Linked DNA regions of Homo sapiens: region 2 is linked to region 1. The links come from fine-mapping of genetic effects on gene expression. A gene starts in region 1. The other region holds a variant in brackets. All regions are shown on one strand. Distances are from middle to middle. Region 1 holds the start of UBOX5 (U-box domain containing 5). Region 2 overlaps UBOX5 (U-box domain containing 5).

What was found.
Region 2: its variant is fine-mapped to the expression of UBOX5 in whole blood (INTERVAL, PIP 0.98).

Annotation. Positions count from the first base shown.
Region 1 is chr20:3,156,535-3,165,341 of GRCh38, reverse strand. It overlaps UBOX5 (U-box domain containing 5), which reads left to right and starts at 5,477. Exons shown (of 5, transcript NM_014948.4): 1 at 5,477-5,576. It overlaps FASTKD5 (FAST kinase domains 5), which reads left to right and starts at 5,477. Exons shown (of 2, transcript NM_021826.5): 1 at 5,477-5,576. It overlaps LZTS3 (leucine zipper tumor suppressor family member 3), which reads left to right. Exons shown (of 5, transcript NM_001365618.1): 5 at 190-2,725. The coding sequence ends at 888.
Region 2 is chr20:3,115,496-3,124,302 of GRCh38, reverse strand. UBOX5 (U-box domain containing 5) reads left to right here. Exons shown (of 5, transcript NM_014948.4): 2 at 897-991; 3 at 1,719-2,919. The coding sequence starts at 938. The region is part of intron 5 of UBOX5-AS1 (UBOX5 antisense RNA 1); the gene reads right to left. Among named protein-coding and RNA genes, the nearest start is that of UBOX5-AS1, 13 kb to the right of the region's middle. The variant G/A (reference allele first, on the strand shown) is at 4,084.

The DNA of each region.
Region 1 (8,807 bases):
GAGGCCATCCGCTGGGTGAGACATGTCCATCTTGAGTCCAGGCAGGGAATCGGGTGCGTCGCTGCTGATGAGGGGCTGAGCCTGCAGCCCCGGGAAGCTTGGTGCCCCTGGCTCCAGATCTGGTAGCTGGGTTGGGGTGAGCAGAGCTCTGCCTTTACCTGGCTTCTCCTCTCACCTGTTCCTGCCCAGGTGTGCCAGAAGGCTGGCGAGATCTCCCTCCTGAAGCAGCAGCTGAAGGACTCGCAGGCGGATGTGTCGCAGAAGTTGAGTGAGATCGTGGGACTGCGCTCGCAGCTGCGGGAGGGCCGGGCTTCGCTGCGGGAGAAGGAGGAGCAGCTGCTCAGCCTGCGGGACTCCTTCAGCAGCAAGCAGGCCAGCCTGGAGCTGGGCGAAGGCGAGCTGCCTGCCGCCTGCCTCAAGCCGGCGCTGACCCCCGTGGACCCGGCCGAGCCACAGGATGCTCTGGCCACCTGCGAGAGCGACGAGGCTAAGATGCGCCGTCAGGCCGGGGTGGCCGCTGCCGCCTCCTTGGTTTCCGTGGACGGGGAGGCGGAGGCTGGCGGGGAGAGCGGGACGCGGGCCCTGCGGCGGGAGGTGGGGCGGCTGCAGGCCGAGCTGGCGGCTGAGCGGCGGGCCCGGGAGCGCCAGGGTGCCAGCTTCGCCGAGGAGCGCCGCGTGTGGCTGGAGGAGAAGGAGAAGGTGATCGAGTACCAGAAGCAGCTGCAGCTGAGCTACGTGGAGATGTACCAGCGCAACCAGCAGCTGGAGCGCAGGCTGCGGGAGCGCGGGGCCGCAGGGGGTGCAAGCACGCCCACTCCCCAGCATGGCGAGGAGAAGAAGGCCTGGACCCCCTCCCGCCTCGAGCGCATTGAGTCCACAGAAATCTGATCGACCTGGGCACTCGGCATTTTGACACATGTCCTGTCAAAAGGCCAGAGTCCCCAGTGTCCCCTCCCCTCCATCTCTCTTCCCCATAGACCCCATAACCCCAGACCAAAGAGGTTCTCTAAGCAGCTGTGACCAGGTTCCTCCCTCCCCACCTGCCCTCCTAGCTCCAGCACTGCCCCCGTGGCAGCCCACTTGGACCCCCCTAAAAGGAGGGAATAGGAGGAGGGCAGGGTGAGTGGGGGCAATCCTAGGTGGTGGGGGAGTCATGCTCCCTTTCTCGGCACCCCCTTGTTGGAGATGGAGGCAGCAGACGTGCAGTGCCATAAGGTGCCCCAGTCCTTCTGGAGGCCTGGGCTGCTACTGTTGGCCACCCTGTGTCTAGTGATGCTCTCTGTGCTCACCTCCTAGGCCATGGAGCCTGAGGGGGCCTGCACCAGGTTTGCTGAAACTGACAGAGCCTGGGCTCCAGACCTCTCTCCCTCCTACAGTGCTCTCCCTCCCTGGGCAGATTGGCAGGACAAGTGGGAGCAGATGGCCTGCCTTTGGCTGAGAGGGCTACCTGCCCAGCCCCTCCCCCAACAAGATCTCTTGGACTCAGGCCTCAGAGCCTGGCCTGGTTGTGAGTGTGTGTCCCTGTGTGTGTGTTGCGGGAGGGGAGGACTGGGGCTGGAAGTCCAGCACCCAGGGAAGATCTGTCCTCCTGTTCTTGGGAAGCGTTGCCTGACGGCTTCTCGGCTCTACCCTCACCCTTCTGGCCAGGATCCCGCAGGGCAACAGCCCCATCTGCTTGGCTGACCCCACACCCAGGACCACTGTCCGGCTCTAACACAGCTATTAAGTGCTACCTGCCTCTCAGGCACTCTCCTCGCCCAGTTTCTGAGGTCAGACGAGTGTCTGCGATGTCTTCCCGCACTCTATTCCCCCAGCCTCTTTCTGCTTTCATGCTCAGCACATCATCTTCCTAGGCAGTCTCTTCCCCAAAGTCTCACCTTTTCTTCCAATAGAAAATTCCGCTTGACCTTTGGTGCACTGCCCACTTCCCAGCTCCACTGGCCCAAGTCTGAGCCGGAGGCCCTTGTTTTGGGGGCGGGGGGAGAGTTGGATGTGATTGCCCTTGAAGAACAAGGCTGACCTGAGAGGTTCCTGGCGCCCTGAGGTGGCTCAGCACCTGCCCAGGGTAGGCCTGGCATGAGGGGTTAGGTCAGCCAATGTCAGCTGCTTCTCTTGGGGCCCTCTCAGAGTCTATCTCCCCAAGACAGGAAGGGAAAAGCAAATTTCTAATTCACCAGCAATAAAAATTGGAGGAGGCTTGGCCCTCAGCCCTTATATCTCTCTCTTTTTCACTCTCTTCCTCCCACCCCCAAGACTGAGTTTTGGGGGGCAAGGTGGAGAGAGCTGGCAACTACTGTGAGCAAGTCCCCTAGCCCCTGACCAGCCTCCTCCCATGACTGGTGACTGTTTAATGAGCTGTGCATCCCCCACAAAAACATGAGTGCCCCTCTGTGTGGCCTCTAACCCTCTGCACAGCCCTTCTGGGTGGTCCTCACCAGGTCTCTGAGCTGGGTGGGAGGCCATCCTGGCGACCACTGCCCATTCCATTCACCCCTCACTGTACCTGCCCTAGAACCTGGGCCTAGGCCACAGGGGCAGGGAGAAGAGAAGGCATTAGTAAGAAAAAAATAGAAAAAAATATGAACAGACTCAGCTTTGGGACGTCCAACCACAAAAGAAATTATATATAAATATATATAAATATATATCTCTACCATATGTGATGGAAAGACTTTTTGTTTTCCTTTCCCAAAGAAATAAAACGGAAAAAGCCTCTTGAGTGGTATTCTTTGGCCTGCTTGTGTCTTTGCAGGTGCGGGAGGTGAGGCCCGGGTGGGGGATGGGGGCAAAGCTGGAGTAAACAGATTTCCCAGAGGAGGCATGAGACTGGAGGTGCTCACTGGGCCGTGCTAGGAGGTTGGCCCAAAGCCCAAGTTCTGCCACGTTGCCCGGGAAGAGTCGTGGTGCCATGTATATGCCCAGTGGGGCTTTCTCTTCAGCTCAGACTGTTGCCAAAGGGGTTAAAAGCTGGCTCCAGCTCAGAATCTGGACACTAAGCTGCTAGCCAGAAAACAGGTGACGCAGGACAGCTAGATGCAGCCTGCAGTCGCCTAAGCCACCTTACAGCAACTGGTAGATGTTTGCGGGCTGAATGGATAGAAGTGAAGACTGGGAACAGGTTTGCAATTAATGGCGAAGCCCCAAAGGCAAAAGGGACCCAAGCGTGCTGCACAGCAGAGAGCTTCCCTTTACAACAGTTCCTCTGTCATCCTCTCAAAGCACACAATCAAGAATGCACTCTGCTGTAAGTAATCAAAGGACCTCAAAGAGTGGTTTATTTTTCCCCAACCTGACAAGAAATCCGGAGGTGGTGTCATGGTTGTTGGATCCTCGGGGACCTAGATTTTCATCCTCCCACTGTTCCATCCTTGGCATGTTGTTCCCTCCTTACCACAAAGTGGCTGCCACAGCTCCATGAAGACATTGAGGCGGCCCTACTTTATCATGAAAAGTAAAAGCTTTCCCAGAGCCCTCCCAGGACCCTTCCCTTTAAGTCCTGTTGGCCAGAACTGAGCCACATGCTCCTCCCACTTCAAGGGAGAATGGGAATTTGAGTATTACAAAGAGAAACAGGATTGTCATGGCTGCCTAGGAACAAACATGGTTCATTCCTTGGGGGCAGGCTCTCTGCTTTCTCTGGGTTCTACTGGCAAGGACAGAGTCATAACAATGAATAGTGTTTGCCCTGGTCTGGCCTGAGGGAGAGAACCCTCCCTAAGCAGTGGTGTCTGTGGTCTGGGGCTCCAGATATTCAAACAGCGCTGTCTCCAGAGCTCAGGAGTTGGGATGTCAGGCTTGCCCCTCCTGGCAGGGACGTGTTCTTCCTACATTGATTTTGTCTTCCCTACAAGATAGGCCCTGGAGGGAGCATGATTTCTCAGCTCTCCTTCACACCCCTTAGAGCCAAGGCATTGACAAGATATGAAGACCCTGATCAGCAGATCTCAAGTGCCCTCAGGAATGGCAGCCTGGGGCCAGGACTTTCTGATAGGTAGAGGTTTAGTAGAGTCTCTTTCTTGTCTAGGTACCTATACTGACAGCTGTGTCAATATATGTACCCAGTAGGACCCAGCCCTCCTTCTTAGGGTGGTGGAGAATCACCCTGGCTCATGCTCCATAGCTCTGGCCTCGCTAAGCCCCAGCTCCACATCCATTTCTCTCAGCAGGCTCATCTATCCATCATGTCACTAGCTCTTTTCCTGAGAGCACTTTACAGATACATCTCTATTATAAATGCATTAAAAAAAAAAAAAGATGGAGTCTCACTGTTGCCCCGGCTGGAGTGCAGTGGTGCAATCTCGGCTCACTGCAACCTCTACCTCCTGCGTTCAAGTGATTCTCCTGCCTTAGCCTCCCAAGTAGCTGGGGTTACAGGTGCACGCCACCATGCCCCGCTAATTTTTTTTTGTATTTTTAGTAGAGACGAGGTTTCACCATGTTGGCCAGGCCGGTCTCCAACACCGGGGATTACAGGTGTGAGCCACCACACCCGACCAATGCATTGTTAAAATTAGACAGGTGTGGTGGTGCATGCCTGTGGTCTTAGCTACTCAGGAGGCTGAGGCAGGAGGATCACTTGAACCCAGGAGGTTGAGGCTGCAGTGAGCCATGATTGCACCATTGCACCCCAGCCTGGGCAATGGGGCAAGACTTTGTCTCAAAAAAAAAAAAAATGTATTGTTTTTCTCACTGTACAGGCTTAGAGAATTTATGTGGGCCGGGTGCGATGGCTCATACCTGTAATCCCAGTACTTTCGGAGGCTGAGGCGGCAGTATTGCATGAGCCCAGGAGTTCGAGACTAGCCTGGGCAACATAGGAAGACACTGCCATCCCCGTCTCTATGAAAATAATAATAATAATATAACAAGAATGAATTTATGTGACTTCTCCAAGGCCATAAAACCCTGAGTGGTGGTCCTCAGATTTGAACATGTGTCTAAGCTACTTACTTTTTTTTTTTTTTTTTTTTTTTTAGATGGAGTCTCGCTCTGTGTCCCAGAGCTGGAGTACAGGGGTGCCCAGACTGGAGTACAGTGGCGAGATATCGGCTCACTGCAACCTCCGCCTCCCGGGTTCAAGCGACTCTCCTGCTTCCGCTTCCTGAATAGCTGGATTATAGGCGTGCGCCACCACGCCCGGCTAATTTTTGTATTTTTAGTAGAGACGGGGGTTTCACCACGTTAGCCAGGCTGGTCTCGAACTCCTGAACTCAGGTGATCCGCCCGCCTTGGCCTCCCAAAGTACTGGGATTACAGGCGTGAGCCACCGCGCCGGGACTAAGCTGCTTAATGACTTCCAGAGCGATCCATCCAGGAAGGTGTTTTCCCTCTGCAGGTCCTAGACTCCCCCTGCCTCCTCAACAACGTCCTCCAGTGGAAAATGTCCTTGGGAAACGCTGACAGAGTCTTTTGAGCCTCGGCCGCATCCGTCACTCGCGCAGCAGGCGGAAGTAGCGGGCAGTTGGCCGGAAGTGGGGCTGTGAGGCTCGGAGTCGCCGGAGGAGCCAGTATCTGTGTCGCCGCCGCCCGCGGCGTCCCCGGTTTGGTGTTGCGGCGCCCACCTTCGGGAGGATCAGGTGAGTGGCGGCGGCCGGGGAGGAGGTCGCGGCGGCCTCTTTCCGCGTTCACGACCGTCCTGGGCCTTGGCCTGTGCCTCCTGTCCTCCCGGCCGGCCCAGAGCTGGAGCGCATCGAGGCCTTGTTCAGCTCTTGGCCTGGGTTGCCAGTGCCTCTCGCAGGCCTGGCTGTGGTGAGAACTTCAGTGACTCTCGCCGCTCCTGAGTTTGTGATCTTTGGCAGGGGGCTTATCTGACCCTTGATTTTTTTTCCTCTGTGAAATGGAGATCGTAACAGTACTTGTCTCACGGTGCTGTTAAGAGAATGTAGTCAGATATTCTGCCGCGCCTCTCATCACACTTTGATGTGCCTGCGAATCGCTTAGAGATTCTGATTCTGTAGGACTGGGGTGGGTTCTGAGATAACTGTGTTCCTAACTAGATTCCAGACGAGGCTGAAGCCTCTGGCACGCAGACCACACACTGAGTAGCAAGGCCCTACAGTATGTTGCTTAGCATTTGGGATGCGGAGTCTTCGGTAAACATCAGTATGATAGGATATATACCTTCCCCCCATTTTTAGCAGTTTCTCGTTGCACAAGCCTAAGGGTAGTATTGATGGCCTTCTCCCTTTTTCTTTCCGTGGGTAAGAATAGTTGCTCTTTCTCTTTCTGTGCAAACCGTGACACAGCTCTTCTGTCTTGACTCAGGGAACTTTGGGTCCCCTCATATCAGCTGTGTTCATCAGTCTTGGGTGATGCTTCACTGATCAGACCCTTGGACAGTGCTTCATCCTGTGGAGCTGATAGCCAGCTGCGTTAGCACCAACTGTGGCTGGCGTTTTGTGCTCCAGTCATTTGTTGCTGCTGGAATCTGAATTCACGTTTTCTACACTTTGTGAATAGTAAGAATGGCTGCCTTTCCAGAACTAGATTCTGTAGCTCACTGACCTGAATGGTCCTGGGCAAGTCCTTGGATAGTTTGCTACTACCTGGTAGACTAAAATAAAATCTGGGCCGGACACAGTGGCTCACGCCTGTAATCCCAGCACTTTGGGAGGTCAAGGCGGGCGGATCACGAGGTCAGGAGATCGAGACCATCTTGGCTAATATGGTGAAACCCCGTCTCTACTAAAAATACAAAAAAATAGCTGGGCGTGGTGGCGGGCGCCTGTAGTCCCAGCTACTCTGGAGGCTGAGGCAGGAGCGTGGCGTGAACCCCGGGAGGCGGAGTGTGCAGTGAGCCGAGATCGCGCCACTGCACTCCAGCCTGGGCGAGAGAGCGAGAGTCCGTCTCAAATAAATGAATAAATAAATAAATAAATAAGTAAATAAAATCTGAAGACTCTGTGCTGCATAACATAACTTAAAAAGTGAGGCCTTTGGCAGTTATGCAGGTCTAATGTTTATTAGTCAGTATGATTTTCTTCCCCATCCATTGGTTTATTTTTTTAGTCCCTAATAAGGCCTTGCCATTCATCATGTGAATAAGTCAACTTTGATATAAAATAATTCTAAGGTCAGGTGCGGTGGCTCATGCCTGTAATCCCAGCACTTTGGGAGGCCGAAGTGGAAGGATTACTTGAGCCCAGGAGTTCGAGACCAACCTGGGGGCAACATAGGGAAACTCTGTCTCTACGAAAAAAACAAAAAACAAAAAAAACACACAAAAAAACAAAATGTAGCCAGGCGTGGTGGTGGGCTTGTAGTCCAAGCTACTTAGGAGGCTGAGGTGGGAGGATCGTTTGAGATCCTTGAGCGATCCTCGCCCGGGAGGTTGCCGGGGTGAGAGGTGGGGGGCAGTGGTCGAGGATGCAGTGAGCGGAGATTGCACCACTGCCCTCCAGACTGAACAACAGAGCGAGACCCTGTCTGAAAAAAAAAACAAAAGAATTCTGAAACTCCTTCTTTATTTGTCTGAAGTATGTACTATACAGCCTCTATACAGCCTTGCAAATTGTAAAAGCAGATAAAACCAAGTGTTTATTGAGCTAACAGTTATAGGTACTTGGACCATTTATTTGGGAATTTTCTCTTATGACGACTGTGTGCATGCAGCTACTTCTCTTTACCTGCCTGGATTTTGTAATTCCTCTAGAAGCCCCATTTAGATGGGCTGAGAGGACATGAGTGCCTACTGCCTGTTGTTATATGGAGAGGTTTTCTAAAGACAGGGTTTTATGAAACCCTTTAAAAGCAGTAGCTCTAACAGAATCATCTACAGGGCTTAGTCATACTATATCTACCCACATCCTTCTTGCCATTCTGATAGAGGAATAGCAGAGTCTTAAAAGAGAAGCGGAAGGGCTGTGTAGCTGAAAAAGTTTCACAAATGTTTGTGATGTGCTGTTTTTCTCCTATCAGCATGGAGTCTAGAACAAAAAGGAAGGGATGGATTGCTAGACTGAATAATTTTAGTTTGGCTTAGACCTGCGAGTGACACTGAACTTGACCTAAACACCTTTGCACTAGTGCTTCACCTTCGCAGTACTGGTAGACTCCTCTCTGAGGCCCTGCTCCCGTGTGGAAACAGAAACACAGAAGAGTCTAGCCCAGTTAACATCCACATTAACAGCTAAGGTCCTTACTGCCAGTCTCTAAGCCCTCACTAGGGGCTTTGAAGTTTTGTAGATTCTCAGCAGAATACCTCAGCACCTAGAGAAAGTTCGGTTTTTTTGCCCTTTTTTTTTGGTAGAGACAGGGTCTCGCCATGTAGCCCAGACTGGTCTTGAACTCCTGGCCTCACGTGATCTGCCTGCTCGGCCTTCCAAAGTGCTGGGATTATGGTCATGAGCCACCTGTCTAGCCAGTTTTTTTGCCTTTTTAATTCTTAAGGTTGCTCAACAAATTATTTGCTGAGACAAGAATAGGGTTGGAGTGTTCATTTATTTGTGGCAATTTTATTGGGACATAGAAAGGAAAAGTGTTAGAATTGAGGGATCAGATCTGGTAAGTGGTAAATTGTATGTGTTTAAGGTGTCTTATACTCAGTCTACAGTTAGCATCGCTCCTTCCTCTGCCTGGCCCCCCTCCTCTAACTTCTAGACTCTAGTTTAAAATGAAGCTATTCGGCTCTGCTCAGACCGGTATGTGGAAGGGAGAAAGGTAAGATTCTTCAGTCCTGTGAAATCACATCATTCAGGGAGGTTTGGGCATTGCCTTTTGGAACTGACAGGGTCCAGGAGTGTCTGAGGCTCTACTCTGTTTCGTTAGGACCCCTAAAGGGGAGAAAGGTATACTTGGGGCACTTAAAC
Region 2 (8,807 bases), 41 kb after region 1:
GTTGCAGCGAGCTGAGATCACGGCAGTACAGTCCAGCCTCGGCAACAGAGGGAGACCGAAGAAAGGGGAGAGGGGAGAGGGGAGAGGCTTTTCTTTTTTCCTTTGAGACAGGGTCTCACTCTGTCACCTAGGCTGGAATGCAGTGGTGTGATCATAGCTCACTGCAGCCTTGAACTCCTGAGCTCAAGTGATCCACCTCAGCCTCCCAAATAGTTGTGACTACAGGTGCATATCAGACATAGCAAGATCCCTACAACGTTTTGTTGTAGAGATGGGGTCTCTACAACAAGACCAGCTATGTTTCCCAGGCTGGTCTTGAACTTCTGGGCTCAAGCAGTCCTACCACCTCAGCCTCCCAAATTGTTGGGATTACAGGCATGAGCCACCACACCTGGCCTCTAATAAATTTTCTATGTCTCAATAATGATGTTTTTGACTCATTGTTTTCATTTTAATAAGAAAACATAATTGCATTGACAAGTATTAAATGACAAGGATGCTTACCACCACTATAATTATTTTTTATGACCCTTTCCATTCCGAACACTCTGTCCTTTCTCTGAGCTCAGATACTTTTGCCACTCCCTTCCTGTGGCAACCCCCAGCACAGCTGATGGGCCTTGCCTCCATTGGGTCTTTGGAACAGCTGTTGGCCAGAGAACTGGCAGTCTTTGCCAACCTGTTGAGCCTGCCATAGAAGTCTTCTCTATAATTTTTCAGTGACTAATTTTTCCCCAACATCATGTATAGGATATAAGGAAAGTCAGTGTGGACCGTGAGAGTGTGTGTGTTCAAGTTTTTGTTGCCATCCTGTTTGATTCTCTTAAGAATCAACTTCTGAAAGTTTAGAATTGAATTTTACATTTTCTAATACATAGTTTTATTTCTTATTTAAGGCTGCTTCTGATGCTTGGAAGATATCCTCTCAGCCACAAAGATGGTAATAAATCTTTGCCTCCCACAGTTCAGACCAAGAATTCACTGCAACAAGGTAAACAAAACAAATATATACACATAAATATATGCTATGTTTGTCATGTGTTTCATCATTTCCTGCCTTGTGTGTGTGGATTTGATTCAGGCTTACTGCACTTTTGCTCTTGTTACTTTAGATTCCATCAGATGGTATTTAGGTAAGCATGGGGCAGGCTCACCTCTAGAATCACACAGCGCCATGGTGAGGTGAGCTGTGACTCATTTTGTGCAGGGTCCTCTTCACTGTGCTCTTTGTTCTTTGATGATCAATCTCCAGTCTCGTCAAAGTCATAGCAAAGGTAGAAATACTTTCTCTCCCCTGCACTTCTCTCCCCAGATACTGTTTTGAAGGGAGTTTTGGTTGGATTGGGCAGGATTTTGTTGCTTGCTTTTTTTTTTGGCAGGGAAAAGGGATATGGGGTCTTGCTATGTTGCCCAGGCCTATCTAACTCCTGGGCTAATGGGATCCTCCTGCCTCAGCCTCCTGAGTAGCTGGGACTACAGGTGTGTACCAACATGCCCAGCTCAGTTGCTCATATTTTTAAGGTTGGGCAATACTTGGGGGCCCCGATCTGGGACAATTGCCCTTGGCCTTTGATCTGATCTTGGGTGCCCTGATCTGGGACAATTCAGTTTAATAGAGGAAATTTTAAAACGAGGAACCTCAGGCTTAAGAGTTTTCTTACAAGTGACAAGTTGTCTTCATTTGGATCATTGTATCTTGTGTTTTTTATTAAATCTAGATATCAGCTGATGGTTACGAAGTAGAAAATCTCATCTCTGAAGATCTCACAAAGAGAAGTCATGGTTTCAGGACAGAGTATTTCATTAAGCCACCAGTCTATGTGACAGTTTCATTTCCCTTTAATGTGGAAATCTGTAGGATCAACATAGACCTCACAGCTGGGGGAGGTCAGAACGTCACTGGCCTGGAAATGTACACATCTGCCTCATCTAGCAGAGTGTCTTGGAATACGCCCCAGTGCCGGACCCTGGGCCCAGCTGAGCCATCTGTCCCAGACAAGGAGGCGTTCACCTTGGTAGGCAAAGTCTTACTGAAAAACCAGAGCCAAGTGGTGTTTAGCCACAGGGGCTTCAAGGCCAGGCCCCCTTTTGGCGCGATGGAAGCCACACTCCCCTCCCCTGCTGTTGTGGCCCAGGAGCTCTGGAATAAAGGGGCTCTTTCCCTTAGCCACGTGGCCCACTTAAGGATCTGTATCACCCATGTGACAGGCGGCGGTATCCCTTGTATCAAGCGGTTGGAAGTGTGGGGTCAGCCGGCCAAGACCTGCTCCCAGGAAGTGATAGACAGCATCCTGCTGGTCACCTCAGAGAACCTGCCTCAGGATGTGGCTCTGCAGGCTCCAGCCTTGCCCATGGAAAGTGACTGTGACCCTGGGGACCAGCCTGAGAGCCAGCAGGCTCCCTCCAGCCTGCAGAAGCTGGCCGAGATCATTCAGGATGTGCCTGAGGAGTTCCTGGATCCCATCACCCTGGAGATCATGCCTTGTCCCATGCTGCTGCCCTCAGGCAAGGTCATCGACCAGAGCACACTGGAGAAGTGTAACCGCAGTGAAGCCACATGGGGCCGAGTGCCCAGTGACCCTTTCACGGGGGTAGCTTTTACTCCGCACTCTCAGCCCCTGCCTCACCCCTCCCTCAAGGCCCGGATTGACCATTTCCTGCTCCAGCACTCCATCCCTGGCTGCCACCTGCTTGGGAGAGCACAGACGGCATTGGCAGTGATCCCTTCTTCCATTGTTCTGCCCTCTCAGAAAAGGAAGATAGAGCAGGCTGAACATGTCCCAGACAGTAACTTTGGTGTAAATGCTTCCTGTTTTTCTGCCACAAGCCCTTTGGTCTTACCCACTACCTCAGAGCACACTGCTAAGAAAATGAAAGCCACCAATGAGCCCAGCCTGACACATATGGACTGCTCGACAGGTAATTCAGCATCCTGTGTCCGCAGCCAGGCTCATCCATCTCCTTCCCAGGAGCTCTCAGCTCTGCTGCCCTTTGCTTTGTGCTTGGCCAGCTTACATTCCCGAGGCTGTGCCTGTGCTGCCTCCTTCCCGTTTCCCATCCTGGGGCCCCTCAGCTTTGTCTTCAGACCAGGGACAACCTGGAGCCTTGGAGGGGTTCCATGTGTTCTCGTCTATTCTCATCTGTTCCGAGGCTTCAGTCTGCGTGTTTCGCTCCTCTGTTGGTGATGGTCCCATGGGCACTGTTGCCTTCCTTGGGGTCCCTTTATGTGCCCTGGCCTGGTCAACACTTTTTCCTGGGCTTGAAGCCTCTGGTCAGAGCTGCTGGGAGGAAAGATACCAGTCCCTCAAAGCAGAGAATCTCTTCTGGTGCCTTCTTTGTGTTACTCATGTGACAGTGGGCTCCTCTGGGTGTTATTTCTAACCGTCACAGAGGTACAAGGATATATTGCATGGAGGTTCTCTGTGCGCCCCCCTCACCATGTGGCATGAGGACACAGAAAAGGAAAAAGGACTAGGTCTGTGGGCCTTCCTTTCAGGAGAGGGTTACTGAAGAGAAAAGCCACACTGAAGAGGGTGCACTCAGTAAATGTGTGGACAAATTGCAATATTCTCTTTGTGTTTTTTTCTGTTTTTCTTCTTTATTGCATTTGGCAGGATCCACCAGGTAAAATTGCAACAATCTTTTTTTTTTTTTTTTGAGATGGAGTCTCGCTGTGTCGCCCAGGCTGGAGTGCGGTGGCATGATCTCGGCTCACTGCAAGCTCTGCCTTCCGGGTTCACACCATTCTCCTGCCTCAGCCTCCCGAGTAGCTGGGATTAGGCGCCCGCCACCACGCCTGGCTAAGTTTTTGTATTTTTAGTAAAGACGGGGTTTCACCTTGTTAGCTAGGATGGTCTCAATCTCCTGACCTTGTGATCCACCCACCTTGGCCTCCCAAAGTGCCGGGATTACAGATGTAAGCCACTGCACTCGACTTCTGTTTTTTTTTTTTTTTTTGAGATGGAGTCTCGCTCTGTCACCAGGCTGGAGTGCAGTGGCGTGATATTGGCTCACTGCAACCTCCGCCTCCCAGGTTCAAGTGATTCTCCTGCCTCAGCCTCTGGAGTAGCTGGGATTACAGAC[G/A]CGCGCCACCACGCCCAGCTAATTTTTGTATTTTTAGTAGAGAAGGGGTTTCACCATGGTGCCCGGGATGGTCTCAACCTGTTAACCTCGTGATCCACCTGCCTCGGCTTCCTAAAGTGCTGGGATCTGCAAGCCACTGTGCCTGGCCTGCAACATTCTTGAGTATGAGATTTAAGGATCCTGGCTTCCTGCCTCTTCCCTGGGGCATTGCCAGTGATTTCTAGGGCCGGTGATGCTGCTCTCTCCTGAGGTGAGCAGCCCTGGTTCACTGGGTGACCTCTGCAGCTGAATGTGTTCAGTGTGAATACCTCAGGGCAAGCTGGATGTTGGATCTTAGGCTGAGATAGATGTTTTTTTGTTGTTGTTGAGATGGAGCCTCACTCTGTTACCCAGGCTGGAGTGCAATGGCGCAATCTCGTCTCACTGCAGCCTCCGCCTCGCAGCTTCAAGCAATTCTCCTGCCTCAGCCTCCCAAGTAGCTGGGATTACAGGCATGTACCACCACACCGGCTAATTTTTTGTATTTTTAGTAAAGACAGGTTTTCACCATGTTGGCCAGGTTGGTCTCGAACTCCTGACCTCAGGTGATTCGCCCACCTCAGCCTCCCAGAGTGCTAGGATTACAGGTATAAGCCACCGCGCCTGGCCTGAGATAGATGTTTTTATCATGTTAAAGAAGTATTGGTTATCTATTGCTAGGTAACAAATTACCCCAAAACTTACTGGCTTACAGCAACAAACATTCATTGTCTCATAACTTCTGTGGATCACAAATCCCAGCGTAACTTGGCTGGATTCTCTGCTTCAGGGTCTTCCAAGTCTGCCATCAAACTGGTGGCTGAGGCTGTGGTCATCTCAAGGATCAACTGGGGAAGCATTTACTTCTAGTCTCACCCACATCATTGTTGCAAGATTCAGCTCGTTGATGCATTGTTGGACTGAGGCCTCACTTGCTGGTTGGCTGTTGGCCCAAGGCTGCCCTCGGTTCCTTGCCTTGTGGGCCTCTCCATAGGGCAGTGTACTGTGTGGGAGCTGTGCGTTCCAGAGAGAGTGCACAGACGAGGGAAATCCATCTTTTAGAATGTAATCTTGAAAGTCACACTCCTCACTTCTATTGTATTCTTATTTTTCCCAAGGTATTTGTTAATTGCTTATTTATAATATTAAGAGAAATGATTTCTTAGCCTCCATCTTCATATTTCTTAGTTCGAGAACACAGATCAGTGACAAACTTCTGTGTAATTCAACCTAAATAATTCCTTCCTTCCTTCCTTTTTTTTTGAGATGGAGTCTCACTGTGTCACTCAGGGTAGAGTGCAGTGGTGTGATCTCGGCTCACTTCAATCTCTGCCTCCCGGGTTCAAGCAATTCTCATGCCTCAGCCTCTGGAATAGCTGGGACTATAGGTGCGTGCCAACACGCCTGGCTGATTTTTTTTCTTTTTTTTTGAGACGGAGTCTCGCTCTGTCGCCCAGGCTGGAGTGCAGTGGCGCGATCTTGGCTCACTGCCAGCTCCGCCTCCCTGGTTCACGCCATTCTCCTGCCTCAGCCTCCTGAGTAGCTGGGACTACAGGCGCCCGCCAGCACACCTGGCTAATTTTTTTAATACTTTTAGTAGAGACGGGGTTTCACTGTGTTAGCCAGGATGGTCTTGATCTCCTGACCTCATGATCCACCCACCTCGGCCTCCCAAAGTGCTGGGATTACAGGTGTGAGCCACTACACCTGGCTGATTTTTGTATTTTTATGAGGCAGAGTCTCACTCTGTCACCCAGGCTGGAGTGCAATAGCACAATCTTGGCTCACTGCAACCTCTGCCTCCTGGTCTAAGCAATTCTCCTGCCTCAGCCTCCAGAGTAGTTGGGATTACAGGTGCCCACAACCGTGCCCAGCTAATTTTTGTATTTTTAGTATAGACTGGGTTTTGTCATGTTGGCCAAGCTGATCTTGAACTCCTGACCTCAGGTTATCTACCTGCCTCAGCCTCCCAAAGTGCTGGGATTACAGGCATGAGCGATAGTGCCCGGCCTGTTAATGGTTTCTTTTTGTTTTGTTTTTTTGGAAACAGTCTCCCTCTGTCGCCCAGGCTGGAGTGCAGCAGTGACGCAATCTCTGCTCACTGCGACCTCTGCTGCTGGGATTTAAGTGATTCTCCTGCCTCGGTAGCCAAGACTACAGGCGCACAGCACCATACTGGCTAATTTTTTTTATTTTTATTTTTATTTTTTGAGACAGAGTCTCATTCTGTCGCCCTGGCTGGAGTGCAGTGTCGCAATCTCTGCTCACTGCAACCTCCGCCTCCCGGATTCAAGTGATTTTCCTGCCTCAGCCTCCTGATTAGCTGAGATTACAGGCGCTCGCCACCATGCCTGGCTAATTTTTGTATTTGTAGTAGAGATGGGGTTTCGCCATGTTGGCCAGGCTGGTCTTGAACTCCTGACCTCAGGTGATCTGCCTGCCTCAGCCTCCCAAAGTGCTGGGATTACAAGTGTGAGCCACCACGCCCAGCCCTGTTATTTATTTATTTATCTATATAGTGACGGAGTCTCGCTCTGTCGCCCGGGCTGGAGTGCACTTGTGCGATCTTGGCTCACTGCAACCTCTGCCTCCTGGATTCTAGCAATTCTCCTGCTTCTGCCTCCTGAGTAGCTGGGACTACAGGCACATGCCGCCACACCCGGCTAATTTTTCGTATTTTATTAGAGACGGTGTTTCACCATGTTGCCCAGGCTGGTCACAAACTCCTGAGCTCAGGCAATCCACCCGCCTTGGCCTCCCAAAACTCTGGGATTACAGGCATGAGCTACAGCGCCTGGCCCCTGTTAATAGATTTTAATGGTTCTGTTTGCTAGTGTTAGGATTTTTGTATTCATTAGTGGGGTTGGACTGTAGTGTGTGTGTGTGTGTGTGTGTGTGTGTGTGTGTGTGTGTGCCATCTTTGGTCAGGTGTCATTGATGATTTTTTTGTTCCATAGAAAGAATTTAGAATTTTTTCTTTTCTGTGCTGTGGAACAATTGAATAGTATTGGAATACCCACTCTGCCTGTCTAGTAGAAGTCCTTGTGATTGTCAGTGCTTGGTGCTTGTGGAGGGTAGCTCTTTGACACGTTTCCTTTTTTTTTTTGAGATGGAGTCTCGCTCTGTCACCCAGGCTGGAGTGCAGTAGTGTGATTATGGCTCACTGCAACCTCTGCCTCCTGAGTTCAAGCGAATCTCCTGCCTCAGCTTCCCGAGTAGCTGGGATTACAGGCACGCACTACTACGCCTGGCTAATTTTTGTATTTTCAGTAGAGACAGGATTTCGCCATGTTGACCAGGCTGGTCTTGAACTCCTGACTTCAGGCGATCTGCCTGTCTCAGCCTCCCAAAGTGCTGGGATTACAGGTGTGAGCCACTGTGCCTGGCCTGGCAACCTTTTCTTTTTCCTTATGGAAATTATTCTGTTTAGGTTGATCATTCTTTTAGTTTCCTATGTTCTTCTAAAAGACTATGCAAATACTATGCTTAACGTTTATTTCTGTGTCTTTGGTTTTAAGAGTAAATTCTAGTTAACATGACCTTCAGAAACTCCTGGAAACATCTGAGGCGCAGTGGGGTGGAACAAGGAAAAAGGTCCTTAGACTTCAGCGTCAGTTTGTGGAGGTCTCAGTCCTGTTGGCCTTGACAGACTTGGTGACTCAGGACCACGCTGACTAGGGCTCCTTCAAGGCCCTGAGCTGATGTCCTGTGTCCTGCAAACAGTGGACAAAAGTTTCCATTCTCCTCTTTGAGACAGCATTGCAAATTTTTCTGCCACACAGGTCCCTGGGGTCTTTCTTGGGCAGCTGTCCCCCTACCCCTTTGGCCTTCACCCTCATTCCATGGCTTGGCTTTCTGTTGATCCTACACTAAAGGTCCCCTAAATTGTGGCGTGGTCAACGTGGGGTCTTAGTTCTATTCGGTAAAAACTGCTTTGTTTTACTTAACAGGAGAGAGAGGACATGAACACCTAGAAAATGCAGATGAACCCCTCTGGGGGGTGGTGGGGTCCCCAGAAGGGTGGAGTTAGGGAAAGAGAAGACTAAGGCCGCTGGGGAGGGAATGGGGGGCAGGGAGCAGCAGTCCAAAGCTGGCGTTTGCTTGCCCCAGTTATTTTCTTGGCCAGCAAGGAGGCCTTTAGAAAGGAGGCCAGGCGCTGTGGCTCACGCCTGTAATCCCGGCACTTTGGGAGGCTGAGGCAGGTGGATCACGAGGTCAGGAGATCTCCTAGCCAACATGGTGAAACCCCGTCTCTACTAAAATACAAAAAATTAGCCAGGCGTGGTGGCGCACACCTGTAGTCCCAGCTACTTGGGAGGCTGAGACAGGAGAATCGCTTGAATCCAGGAGGCGAAGGTTGCAGTGAGCTGAGATGGCACCCCTGCACTCCTTCTCAGCCTGGGCGACAGACCAAGGCTCCATCTCAAAAAAAAAAAAAAAAAAAAAAAGGAGCGTGCAGTTCTGCAGTTGAGCCACGAGGTGGCTCATGTCTGCCCAGCAGTTTCTCCAGGAGGAGAAAAGCCTGAAGCCGGTGGGATGGGCAGGAACTGCCGGTGTTCCTAGGGCTTTACCTCCCGGTGTTCTGTCATGGTCCGCCAGTAGACATTAGGATGGAGTTTCATTACATTGATGTGTGAGATTGGAGGTGCCGTTTTTACAGCCCTCGAAGGACTTGAGGCTGTTCTCTTTTGCGGAGCCTGTCTCTG